3 linked regions of the Homo sapiens genome follow. The protein of the gene in region 3 purifies or fractionates together with the protein of the main gene of each other region. This does not show direct contact. Each region holds a gene or a part of one and is shown on either strand. Other genes may lie near its edges.

What was found.
Region 1: the proteins of WDR54 (region 3) and OSCP1 purify together in Homo sapiens (affinity purification with mass spectrometry; 3 studies listed by BioGRID and IntAct, with this or other methods). This does not show direct contact.
Region 2: the proteins of WDR54 (region 3) and FLYWCH2 purify together in Homo sapiens (affinity purification with mass spectrometry; 3 studies listed by BioGRID and IntAct, with this or other methods). This does not show direct contact.

Annotation. Positions count from the first base shown.
Region 1 is NC_000001.11:36,447,419-36,455,239, forward strand, and holds the start of OSCP1 (protein OSCP1), read right to left. Parts: upstream 3,034-7,821; 5' UTR 2,952-3,033; coding exon 2,840-2,951; intron 2,148-2,839; exon of another isoform or gene 2,040-2,147; intron 470-2,039; exon of another isoform or gene 423-469; coding exon of another isoform or gene 395-422; intron 1-394. UniProt on the Homo sapiens protein: May be involved in drug clearance in the placenta.
Region 2 is NC_000016.10:2,893,114-2,899,865, forward strand, and holds the end of FLYWCH2 (FLYWCH family member 2), read left to right. Parts: intron 1-2,106; 5' UTR 2,107-2,207; intron 2,208-3,238; 5' UTR 3,239-3,336; coding exon 3,337-3,658; intron 3,659-5,662; coding exon of another isoform or gene 5,663-5,733; exon of another isoform or gene 5,734-5,841; intron 5,842-5,935; coding exon 5,936-6,036; 3' UTR 6,037-6,252; downstream 6,253-6,752.
Region 3 is NC_000002.12:74,417,144-74,424,809, forward strand, and holds the start of WDR54 (WD repeat-containing protein 54), read left to right. Parts: upstream 1-4,586; 5' UTR 4,587-4,607; coding exon of another isoform or gene 4,608-4,673; intron 4,674-4,976; exon of another isoform or gene 4,977-5,009; coding exon of another isoform or gene 5,010-5,010; coding exon 5,011-5,232; intron 5,233-5,726; coding exon 5,727-5,789; intron 5,790-6,175; coding exon 6,176-6,242; intron 6,243-6,334; coding exon 6,335-6,388; intron 6,389-6,711; coding exon 6,712-6,839; intron 6,840-7,666. Other genes in the region: uncharacterized protein C2orf81, read right to left, coding at 4,400-4,417. UniProt on the Homo sapiens protein: Plays a role in the adhesion and fusion of the sperm-oocyte membrane through its interactions with IZUMO1 and IZUMO1R/JUNO.

The sequences.
Region 1 (7,821 bases), on a different chromosome or scaffold from region 3:
CCCAAGGTATGGCAGCAGAGTATAGTGGTTATAGTAAGGGGACTAAGTGGTTATAGTAAGGGGACATTGGCTGAGTATGAGGACATTGGTTATATGAGGGGACATTGGTTATAGTAAGGGGACATTGGCTGAGTATGAACTTTGGAGCCTGATGCCTTGGGCTCAAATCCTTTACTTTTCCTCCTACCAGCCATGTAACTCTGGGCAAATTAGTCTTAGTTTCTCCATCTGTAAAATGGGGATAGTAATATTACCTATGTGTTACAATAGTTGGGAGGATTAAGGTGTTTAAGAGGAGCCCTTGGTACAAAGTAAGTGCTTGATTTTTCATTGTTTTATTGTTGATTGCTGTCACTAGAATCAGTTACTGGAGTGGACTGATCAATAGCCCTACCTCCAGTGAATGTCCAGAAGGGCTGCATCAGGCTCCATATAGTATCTCACATAGTGTTTGACACTCAGTCAAAATCTGTGGAATGAATGAGTGTGCGAATGTAAATTACTAAAGATGGCCGAAACTCCCAAAACCATATTTAGCAAAAGCAGAAAAAAGGCTATAACTCCTAAAGGTAAAGCTGTCCTCTAGTATTCCAAGGGCCTTGTCCAGACCTCCTCTTGAAAGATACCTATTACTCATTGTGTTAAACATATTAAATACATTATTTCATTCAATCCTTACAACTTTGCTTTAACATATATGTATTATTACCATTTTATGGAGAAACAGGTTTATAGAGGTTACACCCAAAGGGCATGCAATTAGTTAAATGGTAAAGCTGGAATTGGGATCCAGGTCTGTAAGACTCTAGAGAGTATGTTCTTAATTGCTAATTTACACTATCTTCCAAGATGCAGACTACCTACCAGTCTGAGGACTCCAGCATGTCACCTCATTGGTGCCACTAGCCTGAATGAAATCAGATCACACAGGCACCAAGGAAAACAGAACCCTCTCAAAGGAAAAATGACAATGCTATATAAAACTGCCAATTTAGATAATCAGTTCAAAAAACATTTTGTGATCACTAATTTATTCTGGTCTAGGAATTATGGTAGGTGCTGGAGTACAAAGATGAATAAGACAATCAAGCGGGAGATAGACATATACACAGATCATTTCAGTATAGCATGGCCAGTGGTAAGGTACTGAGGAGCAGGCATGGGGTGCTATGGGAGCACAGGCTGCTATGAGAGCATGCACAGGCCCTTTCTGCATATGGGGAGGATTCCTGAAGGAGATGATTCTTAAGCCGAATAATGCAGGATTGAAGGGGAAGAATGTAGGGATGGGAATTACTAGCACAGAAATACGAACAAACATGGTTTAAGCGGAGATCTATGAGCAGTTTGGTATTATTGGGAAACAGGAGGCAGGCAGTGGTGGAAGAAGGGACTGCAGAGGAAGACAGAGATCAGATAAGGAAGGGCCCTGAAATGGCCTGTGCAAGGACTTGGTCTTAACCCAGATGGCAGTGGAAAGCTGACAAAGGGTTTTAGGCAGGGGCAAGTTTGGACAGATACACATTTTAGAAAGCTCATTGGCGGCAATGTGCAGAATGAATGGAGGGGGTATGTTATAGGGAGTTATTTTTAGCTCTTTATGCATGGACTTGCACTCAGTCACACACACACAATAGTTAATATCTGAATATGTATGCTTAGCATCTGAATATGTATGTTGAACATCAATTGAGCATACAAAGATTAATGGAGAGAATGTTTTAATTGGCGGCCATGTCAATTGCCTTTTCAACTTTTCCTCCTCCACTTTGAAATATAATATTTCCTTCATACTTAATCCTAGGAAATTTGGTATAAGCAAGTTGTTTGCCGAGAAGGGAGGAAAAGAGGAAAAGGAACAGAGTGGCAGAGTGTTCTGAGTCGTCATTTTTCTGGGGATTAGTGTGGTGTCCATGGGAGGCAGATTTTGCATTTTCGAAGCTCTCATATAATTATTTTCACAATTGTATTCCCCTCCAACACTTGTGAGGAGATTTATAACTTTCTTATTTTTTTCATATTTATCTATATTATTTTAGAACACCAAATTTCTAGAAATACTTCTGAGATGAGTAAGACCAATCTCCAGCTTATGTGGGAAGATACTACCATAAAGAAATTAAGAATCTGAACCTGGGCTGGACGCGGTGGCTCACGCCTATAATCCCAGCACTTTGGGAGGCCGAGGGGGGCAGATCGTTTGAGTCCAGGAATTGAAGACCAGCCTGGGAAACATGGTGAAACCCCATCTCTACTAAAAATACAAAAATTAGCTGGGTGTGGTGGTGCATGCCTGTAATCCCAGCTACTTGGGAGGCTGAGGCACGAGAATCGCTGGAACCCAGGAGGCAGAGGTTGCAGTGAGCCGAGATCGTGCCACACACTCCAGCCTGGGCGACAGAGCGAGACCCTGTCTCAAAAAAAAAAAAAAAAAAAAAAAAAAAAAAAAATCAGAACCTGTTCCTTGGGGGTAAAGAGGATGCTTGGACTAGCAAGGGGTATGATACTAGATGGTGGGCAGCTGGGACTCCTACATTTGGAAGGCACTGATTGACAAGAGAGACTGGGAAATCACCTCTCCCATTTGAAGAGATGGGGAAATTAGGGAGGTCAGGCACCCTAGTGTCCACTGGGAGTATTAAGTTCCTCTGCTGTGAAAAAAGCTTTTGGGGGGATTTGACTCCCGAGGGGCTCCAAATGGATGTGGCTTGTAAGAAAGGTCCCTGGTTATAAGAGTGAAGTGTGTAGGGGTGCGGGTCTGGCTGTGGGTGTTAGGGCGATGATGAGAGGGCCGGGCTGCTGGCTGCGGGTCTGGCTGAGCGGGCCGGGGGCCTCTCACCTTTGCGGGCCTTGTCTCCCGGGATGTTCTGGGCCCGCAGCCGTTGGTCGAGGATGTAAAGCATCTCCCCGCCCAAGTTCAAGAAGAGCAGCGGTAGCGTCCGCACCGACATGGTGCTGGAAACGAGCTGGACTGGTGAAGAGCCCCGGGGTTCGGTAGCCAGTGGCCTGAAGGCCAGGCCGCAGCGTCCCAATAGTCCGGTTGCTGGGGCAACGCCGTGACGGGAAGAGCGAGCCAATCAGAAGGCGGTTTGGTGGGAGGTGCCCTGAAGACGGGAGCTAATTGGTCTGGGTGGTGGACCGTCCCGGGGGGATTGGTCCGAGCCAGAGGCCGGCGCGGCGTTGGGCGCGGCTGGGGAGCTGTGCTTCTGAGAGTAGGTTTCCCTCGAAAGGGCGAGGGCCGGGCCAGGGCTGGGGGTGGTCTCGACACAGCCAGCCCGGCGCTTGGGACCCCGGCCGCTGGCGCGGGGCCTCAGGTTCCTATAACAGAGGAAAGCCCAGGCAGAACGGCATTAGAGCAGGCTCGGGTCAGACGGACCTGGGTTGGAATCACGGCTCGTGATTTCTTGCTGTGTGACTTCGGGCAGGGTTTGAGCCTTGGCTTCCTCTTACGTAACATGGAGCTGGCACTCACATCACAGGGCGGCTGAGAGGAATCAGTCAGATCATGGAAAGGCCCCGAAAGCACTCAATAAAAATGGTAACTGACTTTTCTTTTAGACGAGGGAAGGATCAGAAGTCCTGAGTCGTTTGCATCGCCTCCCAAAAGTTTACTTGAAGTGAAGCCCCTCCTGGTTTCATACTCCATGAAGCAAACCAGTCCCGTCCGTCCCCGTGTGTCCAGTTCCCAGAGGATGCGCCTGGGGGCTCTGGGAAGTTCCCTCCTCGACGCTGTTCCGAAGGCCTCCCAACCATTTCTTTTTTCTTTTTTTTTTTTTTTTGAGACGGATTTTGCCCTTGTCGCTCAGGCTGGAGTGCAGTGGCGCCATCTCGGCTCATTGCAACTTCCGCCTTCAGGGTTCAAGCGATTCTCCTGCCTCAGCCTCCCGAGTAGCTGGGATTACAGGCGCCCGCCACCATGCCCGGCTAATTTTTGTATTTTTAGTAGAGACGGGGTTTCACCATGTTGGCCAGGCTGGTCTGGAACTCCTGACCTCAGGTGATCTGCCCGCCTGGGCCTCCCAAAGTGCTGAGATTACAGGCGTGAGCTATCACGCCCGGCCCCAACCATTTCTCTTTGAGGGCAGCGACTCCCTTCCTTACCTCCATCTTAAGCTCCAGGATTACTTTTTGCCATCTGCTGTATATTTTTACTCTGATGAACAACCATTTCTGTAAATTTCAGTACTTCCAAAACCTACTAATTATCTTTCCCTCCAGCTACTCAAACTTGAAACTTGGGCCTTGGCTTCCAAATCTGTTTCCCAGGGTCTTTTATCAGTCATCATATTATGCTTTTTCCTCCAACACCTTTCTTACATTCATCCCTTCATTTGTTTTTCTGTCTGCATTGCTATGTTCCTCTGTATCACTGTTCTTTTCTCTCTTCTACCTTGCACTGGCTGCTAAGCTAAATGTCAGAAGACATCACTTTTTTTTTTTTGAGATGGAGTTTCACTCTTGTCGCGCAGGCTGGTGTGCAATGGCACGATCTCGGCTTACTGCAACCTCCGCCTCCTGGTTTCAAGCGATTCTTCTGCCTCAGCCTCCTGAGTAAGCTGGGATTACAGGCATGGACCAGGGCACCATGCCCGGCTAATTTTGTATTTTTAGTAGAGATGGGGTTTCACCATGTTGGCCAGGCTGGTCTCGAACTCCTGACCTCAGGTGATCTGCCCGCCTCGGCCTCCCAAAGTGTTGGGATTACAGGCATGAGCCACTGCGCCCGGCCAGCATCACTGTCAACATGACACATCCCTTCAGTGGTTTCCTACTCTTTGCCAGATCACAGTCTAGATGCCTTGGCATGGCATTCCAGGCTCTCCACAGGCTCCAGCTACCTTTTTTTTTTTTTTTTTTTTAAAGAGATAGGGGTCTTACTTTGTTGCCCAAGGTTGGAATGCAGTGGCACCCTGGTGGCTCACTGCAGCCTAGAACTCCTAGCCTCAAGTGATTCTTCCACCTCAGACTCCTTAGTTGTTGGGATTTCAGGTGAGAGCCACCATACCCGGCCAACTACCTTTTTAAAGCCATCTCCTGCACCTGGCCACCTCCTCTCCCCCAGTCCAGTTGAACTTGTCAGCAGGCTGCCTCTTCCTCATTACCACACCACTGAAAAGTCTTGTCCTGCCATAACTGAGCCCAAGTCCTTCCCATATTAACATTCTCCTTCCATCCCTGCTAGTCTGTTTTCCTTCCTTTCCTTCCCAGTGAAGTGTTTTGAACGAGTTGACAACACTCACAACTGGAACCTCCTTAACATCCTCACTCCCCACCTCATTGCAACTGGTATTATGCTCCCTGAACCCCACTGAAACTGCTTCACCATGAATACTTTTTGGTCCTTCCCTTAACTGATATCTCAGCATCAGGACTATACAGTATCCCATGGCTGGCAGCCCAAGGCTTTGTTTAATTTGGTTATTTTGCCTGCTCTGTGCTCTGTTTTAAAAGGGAATACAGGCCAGGCGCAGTGGCTCACACCTGTAATCCCTGCACTTTGGGAGGCCAAGGCCAGCAGATCACTTGAGGTCAGGAGTTCAAGACAGGAGTTCAACACCAGCCTGGCCAACATGGTGAAACCCCATCTCTACTTCGCTGGGTGTGGTGGCACACACCTGTAATCCCAGCTACTGTGGACGCTGAGGCAGGAGAATCGCTTGAACCTGGGACGGGGAGGTTGCAGTGAGCCAAGATCACACCACTGCACTCTAGCCTGGGGGACAGAGCAAAAACTCTGTCTCAAAAAAATTAAAATAAATAAATAAGAGGGAATACAACTAGGATAGGAATGTAATAAACACCTTAGCATCATTACTTCATGTTAGGCCTTCATGCATTTTTGTTACCTGCCTTGCTCCCAAAAGCATTTGAGTTTGCTGTAGTGTACTCTTCCCTTAGCTTCTCAGACCTTTTTCTTGGTCCCTAAGCAGTGTGGTATAGTGAACAGGACATAGGCTCTGGAGTCAAGACAGAGCCAGCTTTGAATCCTAGACCTTTCTCTTCCCAGCTATATGAATTTGGACAAGTTACCTAACCTCTCTGAGTCTCAGTTCTCTCATGACTCTCTCATCTCTCATGGCTAAAATGAGGATAATTAGCCAATGTGCAGAGTAAAGGTGGCTGTGAATATTAGATAATGTGCCTAAGGAAGCAGTTAAAACAATGCCTTTTGACCGGATGCAGTTGCTCGCGCCTGTAATCCCAGCACTCTGGGAAACCAAGGCATTTGGGAGGGCAAGGATTGCTTGAGGCCAAGAGTTTGAGTAACCTGGGCAACATAGTGAGACCCTCTCTACAAAAAATAAAAAAATTAGCTAAGCGCAGTGGCTTACACTTATAGTCCTAGCTACTTAGGAGGCAGAGGCAAGAGGATTGCTTGAGCCCAAGAATTTGAAGTTAGTGAATTATGATCAGGCTACTGCACTCCAGTTGGGGCAACAGAGCAAGATCCTGTCTCTAAAAAAACAACCAGCCAAACCAACCAACCAACCAACGAAAAACACACAAATGCCTTTGCAGTAGGGCCTGATCCATTAAAATGTGTTCCTTTTTCTTTCCTTCCCCTTGGCTAGCCCCCTTAACTGTTAGTACCTGGCCCTCTGACACACTACCTCTAAGTAGCCGTGGCCACTTGGAAGTCCTGGCCCATTAAAGGCCTTCCCTACAATTCCTGGAAGTGATATCTGAATAGTGGATCTTCAGTTCTGAGCCTCTCATTTCTGCTTCTGCAGACACCCAGGCTCTGTTCTACCCCTACTTCACCTTCTCCTCCAGCTCAGCTGCTCCTTCTGACTTAGGCTAAGCTCTCAGGGATCATCCTTCCCATCCAGACATGGTCCTTTTTTCTTATACACTCCATCCCTGGGCAGTTTCACTTATGCCCATGGGCTCAATCACCCAACAACTCGCAAACCTCTCTAGTCCAGACCTCTCTACTGAGTCCTAGATCTAAACTTCCAACTGCTCTTTGGATAGCACTTTAGCACACCTTTCTCCCTTTTTGGCTTTCCTCAGTGGCTTCCCTTCCCAGAGTGAAGTCCAGTGTATTTCTCCAGTGTTATGGGCCGAATGTGTCCCCGACCAAATTCATATGTCGAAGCCCTAACTCCAATGTTACAGTATTTAGAGATGGGGCTTCTCAGAGTTAACTAGGGTTACATAAGGTCGTGAGTACGGCCCTCATGATGGGATTAGTGGCCTTGTAAGAGTGAGCTCTCCCCACTGCATGGACCAAGGGAAAGGCCATGTGATGACATTGAGAAGGTGGCTTTTCCAAGCTAGGAAGAGTCCTCACCTGAAACTGAATTGGCTGGTACTCTGATCTTGGAATCCCCAGCCTCCAGAACTGTGAAAAAACGAACTCAAAATAAAAATCCTGTGAAGTCACCTAATCTATGGTATTTTGTTATGGCAGGCTGAGACACCCAGAAAGCTCTACATCACCTGGTATTTGCCTACCCCTCTGACCTTGTCTTCTTACTATTCTCTTTGTTCTGTTTTAGACACATTGTCTTCCTTGGGTTCTTCAAACATACCAAGCATGCTCAGGCTTCAAGGTGTTGGCACTTAACTTGGTGTAAATGGATGGGCTTTATGGGGAACGGGGATCCATAACTCCCTAGAATTTATAAGCAATGCTTTTGCATATGCTTCCTGGGGATAGGACTTGTAGTTTTGATCAGATTCTCTACGTGAACACTGATATCCTCCAGCCCCAGTACACTGCTCTGATCTCTCCTCCTCCCATCTACCATCCACACAGCTGTTGCTTAACTATCTAAAACACAGACCTGTTAATTGCCATCACTCCTTCAGTTTTAA
Region 2 (6,752 bases), on a different chromosome or scaffold from region 3:
ACTCCATGTGTTCCTGGAAGCTCTCGGAACCCTCTCCTTTTGGGTTTTTATGGAGGCTTCATTACATAGGCATGATTGATTGAACTATAGGCCATTGGTGATCAACTTAACCTTCAGGCCCTCTCCCTTTCCTGGAGTTTGGAGGAGGGGCTGAAAGTCCCAACCCTCTAACCCTGCCTTGGTCTTTCTGGTGACCAGCCCCATTGAAGCAGCCCAGGGGCTGCCAGCCATCAGTCAGTGCCTAAGCATACAAAAAGACATCATTTTGGAGATTCCAGGAATTTTAGGAATTATGTACTGGGAGAGAGGGTCAAACACCAAATATATATTTCACAATATGAAAGAGCCCAATTTACGTATTTCACGATTCCCTTCTTGTTACAGCTTAACGAGATTTTTTTATTTTCCTGACTTTTCGCTTTGGAGAATTAGTCAATAGTTTAGGTCTGTCTTGTTCGTTTAATATGGGGTTTGAATTTGAGATGGGGCTGACGTCACTTTGGGGCCCTTTTCTTTTCTTCTTTTTTTTTTTTTTTTTTTTTGAAACGGATTCTCGCTCTGTCGCCCAGGCTGGAGTGCAGTGGCACGATCTCGGCTCACTGCAAGCTCCGCCTCCCAGGTTCACGCCATTCTCCTGCCTCAGCCTCCCGAGTAGCTGGGATTACGGGCGCCCGCCACCACGCCGGGCTAATTTTTTGTATTTTTTAGTGGAGACGGGGTTTCAACATGTTAGCCAGGATGGTCTCGATCTCCTGACCTTGTGATCCGCCCGCCTCGGCCTCCCAAAGTGCTGGGATTACAAGCGTGAGCCACCGCGCCCGGCCCCTTTGGGGCCCTTTTGTACAGCTCAGAGTTGGCCTGGCTGCAGGGCTGGGACTATGGAATGGCAAGGAGGTGCCTCAGGTGCCAAATATTAGGTTGGTGAAAATTAATTGCGGTTTTGTCATTGAAAGCAATGGCAAAACCGCAATTACTTTTGCACTAACCTAATATAAGGAGGCGTGCAGTCTGGGGGTCAGAGTGAGTGTGGAGGTCTCGGAGAATGGCTGCTGGCCTGGAGGAGGCTGCTAGGTCTGGGTCCCTGCCAGCCTTGTGGGGACCAACTGCTGTATCTTGCAGGAATTTGCACGCTGGGTATGCAAGAGGCTTCATCTTTTTTGGAGTCTGGGAGCGCTGCAGTGGCAGAACCGACACGGCGGGAGGCGCTAGAGGACCCGGGGTGGACTCGGACGTGGGGTCAGGGAACCTGGCATTTATTCCTGCCCGGACTGCCCACTCATGCTGCGGAGTGTGGGAGGCGTGGGGAGATCGGCCGCCAGAGGGACGTGCGCCGTAGCCAATCAGCGTGTGAAGCAGGGCGCTATGTGGTTGGGGCCTCCCGTAACTCTTTACGGCCCCAGAGTGGCCCCCAGGTCCCCGGCATCCCCACATCGCCCTGTGAGGCAGATGAGCAGAGCCGGAAGGGCCGCACGGGAGGAACAGGGGTTGGCTTGTCCGGAGGCGGACGGATAACGCGACCCCGATCCCTGCGGTACTCTGCAGTCATGTGACTCGCCGCCTGGCGCATTTCTTCAAGTGCCCACCCCCTCGAGAAGGTGCCCCTGGGGTGGGGGCTTCACATCTGCTTTTGTTTAGTGGTCAGAGGACTACAGAGGGAAGCTCTCAGGACAAGGCCCCCAACCCTGTACTCCAGTCCTGCATCCTTAGGCCCCTCTCATGGACAATAGGGTCTTAGAAAAAGCGCCAGGGTGCTGGGCATGGACCCCTCAGGACAGACGCATTGGGAGGGGTCCAAGGAAACCATGAGAACCTCAAGCCCAGGTTGGGGAATCGGCCCGAGGGGAAAGTGGGTGTCTCTGGGCCTTGTCCTGCCTGGGTCCTGGACAGGGGGCTAGGTGGCTGCCCAAGCTGCAGTCTTGTGTCTAGGCTAAAACTGTAAGCTGGGAAAGACCCCATGGTCTGCCCACCACCCAGTTGACCCCCAAAAGACAGAAAGGCCACCCCACACTGGCCTGGAGCCCCAGTCCTGAGGTGCTGCAGCACCAGTGTGGGGTGGCCCGGCACTTGCCCCTACAGGGTTACAACCCATCCTTTCTGCTTCTCCAGGCCAGAAGCCAAGGAGTCCTCAGTGACGGTGGGATCCACAACATCTCCACATCGCTGTCCCCACCCAGCCAGGGCAGCGCCAGCACTAGCTCAGACGCAAGGTTGGTGTGAGAACCAGTGGGTGTGGCCAGGCGCGGTGGCTCACGCTTGTAATCCCAGCACTTTGGGAGGCTGAGGCGGGCAGATCACGAGGTCAGGAGATCGAGACCACGGTGAAACCCCGTCTCTACTAAAAATACAAAAAATTAGCCGGGCGTGGTGGCGGGCGCCTGTAGTCCCAGCTACTCGGAGAGGTTGAGGCAGGAGAATGGCATGAACCCGGGAGGCGGAGCTTGCAGTGAGCCAAGATCGTGCCACTGCACTCCAGCCTGGGCGACAGAGCGAGACTCCGTCTCCAAAACAAACAAACAAAAAGAACCAACGAGCAGAGGAGCATGTGGGCCTTCAGACGGGGATGTGGCTGGATCTGGTTGTCCCACCTGCCAGGGCCAGCTGCAGTGCTATGGTCTGCAAAGTGCTGGCAGGTGCCTGGCCCATGCTCCCTGTGACAACACAAACTGAGCTAATGTCCCCAGAGTGTTTAGCTCTGATGCTTGGTGCCCAGGGACACTGATGTCTGTTAACATGGACAAAGTACACCAGATGCTGTGTGGTCATGGGCTCTGTGTCCACTCCATCTCTGCCACTCTGTGGCCGTGTGGATCACCCTGGCATGTCTCAGTGTCCTCAACTGTGACTGGGTCCATAAGAACAGCCTGCTGTCATAACAGGGGTGGGAGGTGGGACTGGAAACAGTCCTCAGGGTGGAAACCCTTCGTCCGTGCTCAGCATGTGGGAGGCCCATTGGTAGTGGCTGAGTTCTTAGTCCATTAGTCATTCTGATGGCCCCTTGTGGAGGGTGTTTACTGTGCACCTTTTCCAGATGGGGAAAGTGGGGTTGGATGGGGCTGACGTTCCCAAGGCTGCCAGGAGAGGAACTGGCAGAGCAGAAGCCTAGTTCCATCAGGCCCCCTGTCAGTCTTGGCCCCAGCGAGCAGTGAGGCAGCCCCATCTGCCCCACCTCCCTCCCAGATCCACGTCTAGAGCCTCCCAAGGGCTTCCACCACTGACGGGATTTTGCTTCCTTCCTTAGGACGGAACCGCTGGACTCCAGGTTCCTTGCCTGGGAGTAGGAGAAATCCACCTGCTGGGGGCTGAGTGTGGCCTGAGGGACAGGCCCTGGGTCCCGGGATGCCCCTGCCCGAGCCCAGCGAGCAGGAGGGTGAGAGTGTGAAGGCCAGCCAGGAGCCATCCCCCAAGCCAGGCACAGAAGTCATCCCGGCAGCCCCCAGGAAGCCCAGAAAGTTCTCCAAACTGGTCCTGCTCACAGCCTCCAAAGACAGCACCAAGGTGGCGGGGGCCAAGCGCAAGGGTGTGCACTGTGTCATGTCCCTGGGGGTGCCCGGCCCCGCCACCCTTGCCAAGGCCCTCCTCCAGACCCACCCCGAGGCCCAGCGGGCCATTGAGGCAGCCCCTCAGGAGCCTGAGCAGAAACGGAGCAGGCAGGACCCAGGTGAGGCTCCACAGCGGCCCCCCAGGACAGCTCGGCACCTCCCAGGGTGGCCCCCACAGCCGCGCTGGCTCCATCAGGCGCTTCTCCCTGGCATGCGGGTCCTTGTTCCCTGACTTTGACCACGTGTGGAGAGCAGTGGCACAGGGGTTAGGGCACAGGCCTGGGCATCCGCCGACCTCCAACCCTGCCTCTGAGCGGCCTTGCCTCTCTGTGTCTGTTCCCCACTCTGGAATGCGCTGCCTACTGGCTCCTTCACAAGGGAGGGTCTGAGGGTGCGGCGGGGCCCACAGGCAGCTGCCGTCAGCTTCAAGGTCTTGGCTCGCAGCTGTTCGATGAGGGTCTCTAAGACCGGGGGCTTGATGGGTCACCTTTCCATATGTTCTAGAAAGCTTCTTTGGTCTCACTCACCGTTCAGTCACTTAGTAACATCCACTGAACAGCAGCTGTGTGCAGGCTGGGCTCTGGAGACTCGAGTCACGCAGGATGAGACTCCCAGCAGACTAAGGCAGTGACCTCAGCCTGGCTCTCCGGGACTGCCCCTGCTCTCCCTACCTCCTCTGCACAATCACCCCCCACCAAGCCTCCGGGGAGATACAGCTCAGGGCTCACAGGTCCCATGGGAGAGTGGGGCTGGGGGTGTGGCCCTAGCTGCTGCGGGCTGGCTGGAGGTGATGGGGCAGGTTCATTCCCTGTGCTTTGCTGTGGGAGTGATGGGATGGATGGAGGCACTGAGCATCTTCAGTCCCTGCTCCCACTCCCCAGGGCCCTTGGCTCTGCCCCTGCTGTGTACTAGACCTTTCAGCTAGACTTGGGGAACATAGTCAGGTGGGCCATGGTAGCAGAGATGGGATGAGAGCAGGGCTGCCCCTTTCCCTGCACCCAGCTCTCCCTGAGGTGGCCCAGGCCATGCCCTGCTGTCCCCTGCAGGAGGACAGGTCCCCTCCTGGCCCCACAGCAGGTCCTGCCTCTGGGCTCTACCAGGGCAGGCAGCGGTGGGGGCAGGGCCCTAGGCAGCAGAGGAAATGGGCTGGGTACACCTTTTGAACTGGAAGTTCCAGGGAGATGGGGCAGGGGGCTGCCCAGTGGGTGGGAAGAAGGTGAGTTGGGGTTTCTTCCCAACTGGGAGTGGGCTCTGCCGTGCCCTGAGAAGAAGAGGCGTAGCAGGTGGCCTTGGCTTGTGACCTCTGAACAGGTGGTCCCCTGGGGTCAGCCAGAACAGGTGGTCCCCTGGGGTCAGCCAGGGCACTCAGCCTGGCAGCCCATTGTGAGAAAAGGTTCCTTCAGTTTGCTGGCCGTGCAGGGACCCTGCCTCACTGATGGAAATTGAGGGGTGAGTGGCCTGAGGTCACAGAGGGTCACAGCCCCACAGCCTCCCTGGGGCTGAGACCCCAGAATGCCTGAGATGGTGGTGTCCGCAGCCACAGGCTTGGAGCTTTCAAGGAACCTAATGGACCCCTCGGCCTCCATCCCTCTGCTGGAGTCTCAGGCCTGGTGTGAGCAGTGCTCTGGGACTCAGAGGGACCCCGTCCTCCCAGAGCCGGTGGGAGTGCCTGGCTCTTACTGCGAAGCCCCCACCATCCAGTCCTGCTCTGAGAGCCTCTGCCTGTCCCCCTGGCTTCTCCTGCCAACCTTGGGCAGAGGATGCAGTCCCCATGGCCTGTGGGAGGCAGGGCTCAGAGGAGCGAAGTCGCCACTCTGAGGCCACCAGGAGGTCCCTGCAGAGGGCAGAGGGGGTTGGAGTCTGGCTCAGGATCTGTTACACCTGAGCTCTGTGGAATGAGACCATCTCAAGGTCCTCCCAGCCCCTTTGAGACTCCTGCTCACTGCTGGGATCCATCTAGGCCTGGGGCCGTGGTGCCTTTGTGAGAATTGGAGCACAGCCATCTTCGCCAGATGAAAGGCAGAGCAGGGCTCCATCAGGCGCCAGGGGTCCCGCAGGCAATCACCCTCAGGCATCGACCACCCCCATCTGCCAACTCCTCCATCCTTCCATCCCCACCCCAGGTCCAGCAGAGGCGATGGCTGCGGCTTCCCAGTGCTCAGCACAAACTTGGCCTCAAGTTTCCTGGAAATGACTTTAGCAGCTTTTGTGGCCCTGGCCTGGTGGCCTTGGGAGCAGCGTCCCTGAGTGGCAGTCACTTCTCAGTCAGGCAGAGGCTTCTGGCCCTGGAGCATCCACTGGTTGGGGTGAGAGTGAGGCCTGGTAGACCCCCAACAGCCAAGCTGAGCCCTCCCATCTCCATTGACACCAGCCTGATCCACCCTCTTCTCTCGCAGGCACAGACAGAACAGAAGACAGTGGATTAGCAGCGGGGCCTCCTGAGGCTGCTGGGGAGAACTTTGCCCCCTGCTCTGTGGCGCCCGGCAAGTCCCTGTAACCTTGACAACAGGCGCATCCTCCCAGGCCACCAACCCAGCCATAGGCTCTTCTCTGTCCGCAGGGCTTCTGGGGCCAAATGGGTGAATCTTTGCTTTTAACATTGTGTGATTTCTTTTCTTTTTTTTTTTTTTTTTAGATCAAGTATAAGTTACTTTTGTAAGCAGAAAAATACTTTCAAACAAGAATAAAAGAAGCTGTTCGCTAGACCCCATAATGGGCAGGTTTTAAACATCCCAGGCTTCTGGGTCCTTTGAGGCTCAGCTCTGATGCCACCACCCCTGGGTCTCCGCACCCCAGCCCTTACTGGGCCCTTCCAAAGTGCCCCTTAGTCACTGCCCTCCCTGACCCAAGTCTCGCTTCCTCCATGAAGCCTCCCAGACTGACAGCTCCCAGGCACTAAGGGAGCTCAGGCTTGCTGAGAATGGTAGCTCCAGGATTCTGCTGAGGGAGAGGTAGGCCTGCAGCTCATGGGTGGGTTCAGGGAGGAACCTGACAAAAGCACATGCGGCCTGCCTGTCATGTTTTTTCCAGGGGATTTGTGGGCTGAGGAAACCTGAGTTCCTGCCCTGGCCCCCTGGGTGCCATCCCTGCTGGAGGGGAGATGAAGGAAGCACAGCTACCCTACTTGAGCTCCCAAGTCAGCGAGCCTCCAGGAGGCTTCCCATGAGTCCTCATTCTTTGACAACTGCCTCTGGGCTCAAGGCAATGTTAGGG
Region 3 (7,666 bases):
GGAACATTGAACCAAAAACAAAACAACTGTCCAGAGGTAGTTTGTGAACAAAGGAAAAATGGAACCAGAACCTGGGGGGGTGGCAGGAGCAGGAGGGCTGGGAGTGGGAAGGGTGAGCTCCTTGTTATTGGTGCCCCATCTGAGGAGAGGAAAATGGCCAAGTGGTAGAAGCAAAGTAGGGTTGGGGGAGCAGCCCCAGCCCACCTCAGGTAGCTGCCACAGGGCTCATGGGCCTCACCTGGACAATAGGTGACTGCATCTCCATCACTGCAATATGTACTCAGATCCCAGGCAGACGGTAAGGGGGCTGGGGCCACTGCAAAGAGGGAGTAGGGGACTCACACCCCTCCCGCTTTCCTGTAGCCAATGGGGGCTGTCCAACCTAGTGCAGGGACTAGGGAAGGTGGGGAAGGATGAAAGGTGTGAGCCTCACGTGGTGACAAAGACAGTTTGGCTGGGGGAATCCTGGGGGCCAGCACCCCCCTCCATTGGCCACACCTGCTGCTGCCAGGACAGTGGAGTGGGGTGTGCCAGAATGGGGGCTTGGGCCCCTTTTAAGACCAGGGGAACCCTCCCAGGCCCCTCTATGGGAAGCCAGAGGCAACAGTGGAGGAGCAGAGAAGTGGCTCCCAAACCAAAAGCCCAGAGAGCAATGTCACCACCAAGGGATCAGGGACGCAGCAGGTGCAGGGTGCGGCTAAGCAGGACATTAGCCTTGTCCAGGAGGGCACATGTGTATGAGTGGGTGGACGGGGGGAGGAGGGGGTAGGGATGGGAAGAGGCCAGGGGAAAAGTCCTCTCCACTCAGCCCATAGGGACCTGCAGCGGCTGGTGTGTTGTGTAGTGTGGTGGTGAAGGTGCAGGTGGAAGATGAGGGTGGTGGCTGGAGGCGGTGGTGATGGTGGGTGTAGGGAAGGGGTGGGGGGTGGGAGGTGGGGGGTTGGGAGCAGATCAAAGCTGTCCAGTCCCAGAAGGAAGCTGCTCCTCCAGTGAGGACTCCTGCGAGATGCCCTTCTCTTCCTCCTTCTCCAGTTTTTTGGGTCTTCCCCTTGGTTTCCTTCCCAGAGTTGTGGTGGTTTTCCCGGTCTTGGCAGCACCCTTGTTTTTGCTTCCCTTTGGTCGGCCCCGAGGTCTCTTAGGTGTTGGCACTTCGCTGAGCTCCTTCTGACTCCCTACCAGCGCTGTCCTGGGACTCACCGGAGGCTGCTTGCGCGGCCTGCCACGGCCCCGCTTCTCAGTGCCGTCCTTTTTCTGCTTGGAGGCCAAGGGCTGGCTGGACTTCGAGCTCGACTCGCTCATCTTCCCTTCTCTAAGGACTAGTTGGAAAAGTGATGGCTGGGATGGGCGAACTCGGCCGCTGGCCTGCGGTGCATGCTCCGGTTTGCCGGGAGCAGCGGTGCTGGGCGCTGAGGACAGGCCAGTCTCCACCGCAGCCGCCCCTGGTCGCAAATGCGGATGCCTTCCTGGAGCCGCGCCAGCGCCAGAAATAGCCCAGGCTCGGAGTCCCACTTAGAAGAGCACAGCCCCGGCTCAGGGGAGCTTAAAAAGTTCTCTACATTTTTTTTTTTTAACCAACTATTCTTATCTCCATTTTATGGTAATTTACCCAGTATCATACAAGTAGGATGTAGTGAAGTCAGAATGCATTCACATGCAAGTCTGTCTGACTCCAGAGCCTCTCAAAGACATTTGCAACAAATATGAAAAAAGATAAATATCCCCGAGTAAATTAAAAGCTCATATAAAAAAAAAAATGGCCGGGCGCAGTGGCTCACGCCTGTAATCCCAGCACTTTGGGAGGCCGAGGTGGGTGGATCATTTGAGGTCAGGAGTTCGAGACCAGCCTAGCCAACATGGTGAAACCCCGTCTCTACTAATAATACAAAAATTAGCCAGGCATGGTGGTGGGCGCCTGTAATTCCAGCTACTAGGGAGGCTGAGGCACGAGAATCACTTGAACCCGGGAGGCAGAGTTTGCAGTGAGCTGAGATCATGCTACTGAACTCCAGCCTGGGTGACAGAGCGAGACTCTGTCTCAAAAAAGAAAAAAAAAACTAATAAAATAAAAAATAGAAGAAGAAAAATGGCCAGGCACAGTGGCGCACACCCACAGTACCAGCTGCTCGGGAGGCTGAGGCAGGGGGATTGCTTGAGCCCAGGAGTTCAAGTCCAGCTTGGGCTATATTGCAATAAAAATTTAAACTATAAGAAGAAAAACCATTTAAGATCCCAAAGATAAGCAAAGGACATGACATTTCACAAGAGAGGGACTGTAGATGACTAATAAATATAGTATTGACATTCTGATTTCTAGTTCATCAAATTGGAATTATTTTAAAAACAAGAATACTCAGCATTGGCAAAGGTTTAGTGTGATACCATGCTGCAACAGTATGCATGAAGACATTAAAAAATGTTTTCACTTCCTCAACCCTGCAATTTCAGTTCTATAAATACAACCAAAAGGCATTTTCTGAAATGAAGATAAAAATATATTCTCCAACAAATTCTCTGCGGTATTTTTATAATAGCAGAATATTGAAAACATGTCTTTAAAAAGAGAATAAATAATTGACATGCTATATATACTGAAATATTATGCAATGATTAAAGGTAATCTTTTTTTGTTTGTTTGTTTTTGTTTTTGAGACGGAATCTCGCTCTGTCACCCAGGCTGGAGTGCAGTGGCAAGATCTCGGCTCACTGCAACCTCTGCCTCCCAGGTTCAAGCAATTCTCCTGCCTCAGCCTCCGGAGTAGCTGGGATTACAGGCGCCTGCCACCAGGCCTGGCTAATTTTTTTTCTATTTTTAGTAGAGATGGGGTTTCGCCATGTTGGCCAGACTGGTCTTGAACTGGCCTCAAGTGATCTGCCCACCTTGCAGGCATGAGCCACCAACCCAGCCATTAAAGGTAATCTTTAGAAAGAATTTGCAATGGCATAAAGCAAATGTTTATGATGTAACGTTAATTGAAAGAAGCAGGATACAAACTTACACATCAATTATGATCTCATATATGTAAACCACTATGTGTTCAACAAAAGGAAAACTTCAAAATGATAACAGAGGATACGTTTCCTTCCTATGCTCTTTTCTATTTTGTAAGTTCTCTACAATGAGTTTGTTTCCTTTTGTAATCACTTAAAAAAAAAAAAAGACTAGTCCCCAAAACTCACTTTAGAGACATAAAAAGTTTACAAACAATCTCTTGGGAGCTCCCTCAATTCCCCACAACAGTCTCCCTGAACCTGGTTCCTTCCAAAATGTACTTCCAAATGTGATCTTCCCAAACCTTTGCCTATTGCCCCGCTAAAACCTTGTCTCATATCTGTTTCCTAAAATTCATTATCCCCCCAAATCTGCTGTTTCCTAAGTCTTGCAGAACTCAAAATCCCTGAAGTCTCATTAACCCTATCCACCAGTGAGAACAGCCCTGTAGCAAGCACCAGGAGTGGCCCATAGCCCAGGCCAAGCTTGACTAGAGCAGGGCTGACTGGACTGAGTAAAGAGAGTTGTTTCCTTAGACCTCCCCTCCCAGCCTCGCATCTGACACCCGTGATGGTGACCAGAAGGGACAGAGATATTTTTGCACAAAGGCTCTTCAAATCCGTTTTCTTTCTTCTTCTTCTTTTTTTTTTTTTTTTTTTTTTTTTTTTGAGACAGTCTCTCTCTGTCACCCAGGCTAGAGCGCAGTGGCGCGATCTCGGCTCACTGCAACCTCCGCCTCCCGAGTTCAAGCAATTCTCCTGCCTCTGCCTCCCGAGTAGCTGGGATTACAGGCACCGCGCCACCACATCCAGCTAATTTTTTGTATTTTAGTCGAGACGGGGTCTCGCCATGTTGGCCTGGCTGGTCTTGAACTCCTGAGCTCAGGCAATCCTCCCGCCTCAGCCTCTCAAAGTGCTGGGATTACAGGCATGAGCCATTGAGACCGGCCCCGTTTTCTTTATTTTAAAATTGATTGGCTCTTAAACAATTTGACTTTCAAGTGCAGTCTCTGAATTATTTAATATATTTCTTCCTCTTGAAATTCTCGAAATAGATTTTTTCTGTTATCTTCCCTCTCTAAATGCTCATCCATTTAAATACGCACCACCATGTAAGAGACTTACTACATTCATTAGCTGTTTCAAAATCCACTTCCTGTTCTCGGGCTCTACACCACCCACTGACCCTTTCCCTCATGGCTTGAGTGTAACAAAGCGTTTGAGTGGGCACCGTGCAGGTGTAGGTTTTCTGCCCGAGTACCGACGTGGCTTCCTTGGTCATCTAAACTCCCGCGCGGTGGGCGGGAGCAAGTAGGGGCACTGGGCGGCCCAGAGCCAGCCCACTGTTCCCGACACCGACCTTAACGGCCGACCCTGGCTCTGGCGCATCCCCAGCTGAACTGAAGCTCACCGAGCCTTCGTGCGCCATCGCCAACGCGGTCGCAGCAACGCTGGTGTTTCTGCTGCATCCGGGCCGCGTAAGCCACCTAACAGTCGCCTGGGCAACCACGGGCTCGGGGTCGCTCGCCCCGCCCACAGTTGCCCCGGCAACCGCGCCGCCCGCGGCACGTTCCGGCCGCTCACCCCGCCCAAGGGCCGTGCGTACGTGCGTCGTCTCTATGGTGGCGGCGGATTTGGAGGGACCCTACGAACCAGGAGTCAGGCGAGCCGATCTGGGGCTGCAGGTGTTACCTCTGATCTAGGCCGGGGGCTTCAGGGATCCGAGCCGAGGGAGAAAGCCTTGGGGGCTTCATCACACTTATTTGGCTCGCGGGCTTGGGGCCATCGGGTGGTCCTGTGTCATCCCCATTCCTCCTCTGCGATTCCCCCGTCGCCCCAAAACAGCCCTGGGACTCCCCTGTCTTGCTCCTCGAGACCCTCCCCCATCACCGTCCTCTGGGCACCCCATCCTATGACCCAGTCTCAGGCATCTTCCGAAATGCTCGATGATAGCCGCCCTCGGGCATCTCCGCTGCGTCTGTTTGTAGCGCGCCTGGTGATTCGGCTGCACCCCCACACAGGATGTTCCGCTGGGAGCGCTCCATTCCCCTGCGAGGCTCGGCCGCCGCCCTGTGCAACAACCTCAGTGTGCTGCAGCTGCCGGCTCGCAACCTCACGTATTTTGGCGTGGTTCATGGACCAAGCGCCCAGCTTCTCAGCGCTGCTCCTGAGGGTGTGCCCTTGGCCCAGCGCCAGCTCCACGCTAAGGAGGGTGCTGGAGTGAGTCCCCCACTTATCACTCAGGTGAGGCATGGAGCTGGGAGTGATGTTGCTGAACCCAGTCCTACCCCCAGCCTTTTCTCTCCAAACCTTCAGGAGCAGGCATGTCCTAACCTCAGAATCTCCCCAGGCATGTCCTAACCTCAGAATCTCCCCTCTCCTGCCGGGCGCGGTGGCTCACGCCTGTAATCCCAACACTTTGGGAGGCTGAGACGGGCACTTGAGGCCAGGAGTTCGAGACCAGCCTGGCCAACATGGTGAAACCTCTTCTCTACTAAGAATACAAAAAAAATTAACCGGGTGTGGTGGCGTGCACCTGTAATCCCAGCTACTTGGGTGGCTGAGGCAGGAGAATCGCTTGAACCCAGGAGGCTGAGGTTGCAGTGAGCCGAGATGGCGCCACTGCACTCCAGCCTGGGCCACAGAGCAAGACTCCGTCCCCCAAAAAAAAAAAAAAAACAAACAAACTCATCTTCCCTGCTTTGATTTTCTCCCTACACTGATGCACCTCCCTCCAGGTCCACTGGTGTGTCCTCCCCTTCCGAGTGCTGCTGGTACTCACCTCACATCGAGGAATACAGGTAAGAAGAGGACTCTCCTGCTTGCCCCACCAGAGCCTTCTCAGCTTCCCTGCCAGGCTTCCAGACTTTCCCACTTGCCTCTAAACACTTCCAGACTTTTCACATGCTTGGCCCACTCACTCTTTTTCTATTTCTTATCTTCAATCTTTCCATCTTTTCCAGTTTCCAAGTGCCACCTCCAGTATCTGCCCCTTTACTAGCTGTATGTCCTTACACTATTAACTTCTCACTCTCACTGTTGTCCTCTGAAAAAATTAGGATAAAAATAGTACCTACATCCCAGATTTGTTTTGAGGATTAAATGGGCTAAGGCTAACACGGATATGTGAAGTACTCAGCAGAGGTCAGTTGGGTTATGCCCCCTGGTTCTTGCCCCGGTCTTCCAGATGTACGAGTCCAATGGCTACACCATGGTCTACTGGCATGCACTGGACTCTGGAGATGCCTCCCCAGGTACCTGCAGGACCAAGTGGGGTGGGGGCAGGGAGTGTTTGCTAGGGCTGCAGGAGGGGATATTTCTGATCATTCTCCCCTTTCATATTCAGTACAGGCTGTGTTTGCCCGGGGAATTGCTGCCAGTGGCCACTTCATCTGTGTGGGTGAGGGAGCCAAGTGCAGGGCATGGAGGGGTGCTGGGGCATGTGGGCTGTGGCCAGGAGAATAATGAGGGCCTGAGGAAATTGTGGAAAGTTAGAGGGAAGGGTGGAAGTGGAGTGGAATCAGAGACTCCAGTAAACCATGGAAGGGTTCAGAGGGTCAGGGTGGGATAAGACAAGGCTAGTGAATGAAGGGGCATGGCCGTTGGAGCAGTGAGAGGGGGTTTTGTTACTAAGGTTTCTGGGATGGAGTAAGTGTTGAGTATGGTGGCTGGAGACCCAGGAGGGTCAGGAAGTCATCACTGGAGTACTGGTTCTGGATACAGGAACGTGGTCAGGCCGGGTGCTGGTGTTTGACATCCCAGCAAAGGGTCCCAACATTGTACTGAGCGAGGAGCTGGCTGGGCACCAGATGCCAATCACAGACATTGCCACCGAGCCTGCCCAGGGACAGGTGAGTGGACTTCCCCTACCCATCTGGGAGCCTTCCCCACCCTGGGAGGCAGGGGACCTGGCTTTGAGTCTTGGCTCTGCCACTAAACAGGTGGATGGCTTTGGGCAAATCTACATTTTCCTAGTCTTCAGCAACCAGGTTCAGTGATAAAGCCAGAGATACTTTACATTTATGTAGTATTTTATAGTTAATTAAGACTTTATAATACTGATGTGAAATGAGGAGTTGGAACAAATGGTTTCTAAGATACTTTCCAGCTCTGAAATGTGCAGCTTCCTTCTCTAGGGCAAGTCCCACCTATTCAGGCCCAGCTCCAGTGCCATCCATCCTCTCCAGGAAGCCTTCCCCATATTCTAGCTCCCACTGATGTCTCTTAGCTGAAACCTGAATTGGCACTGCCCTCAAAAGACAACTCTTGTCTCCCCAAGTAATTTGCAAACCTCTTGAGAACAGGGTGTATATTTTCTTATTCATATTCTCCATTGTACCTGGCATAGGGCTAGGCCCATAGGTTGTGTTGGCTGCCTGGTGTTGGGGGTGCAGGGGCCCAGGGTCTAGTCATGACTGTGACTGGTTCACTACGAGACCTCCAGAAGGTCACGACACTGTGGCCTCAGTTTTATCATCCATCCAGTGAGGCAATTATGCACCCCCTCCTAATGTTATTGGGGGATGGGACTCCATGAAGAAATTCAAGGAAAGCAGTTCATGCTTCCCAAGGGAACCCTGGTGGTAGGGGTGGTTTCTGATGGGTCTAGCTAGTGAGAGCTCCACACCTTGCCCTTTCCCTGGAGAGGCAAAGATGCACACACTGCCTCCCTTCCCCT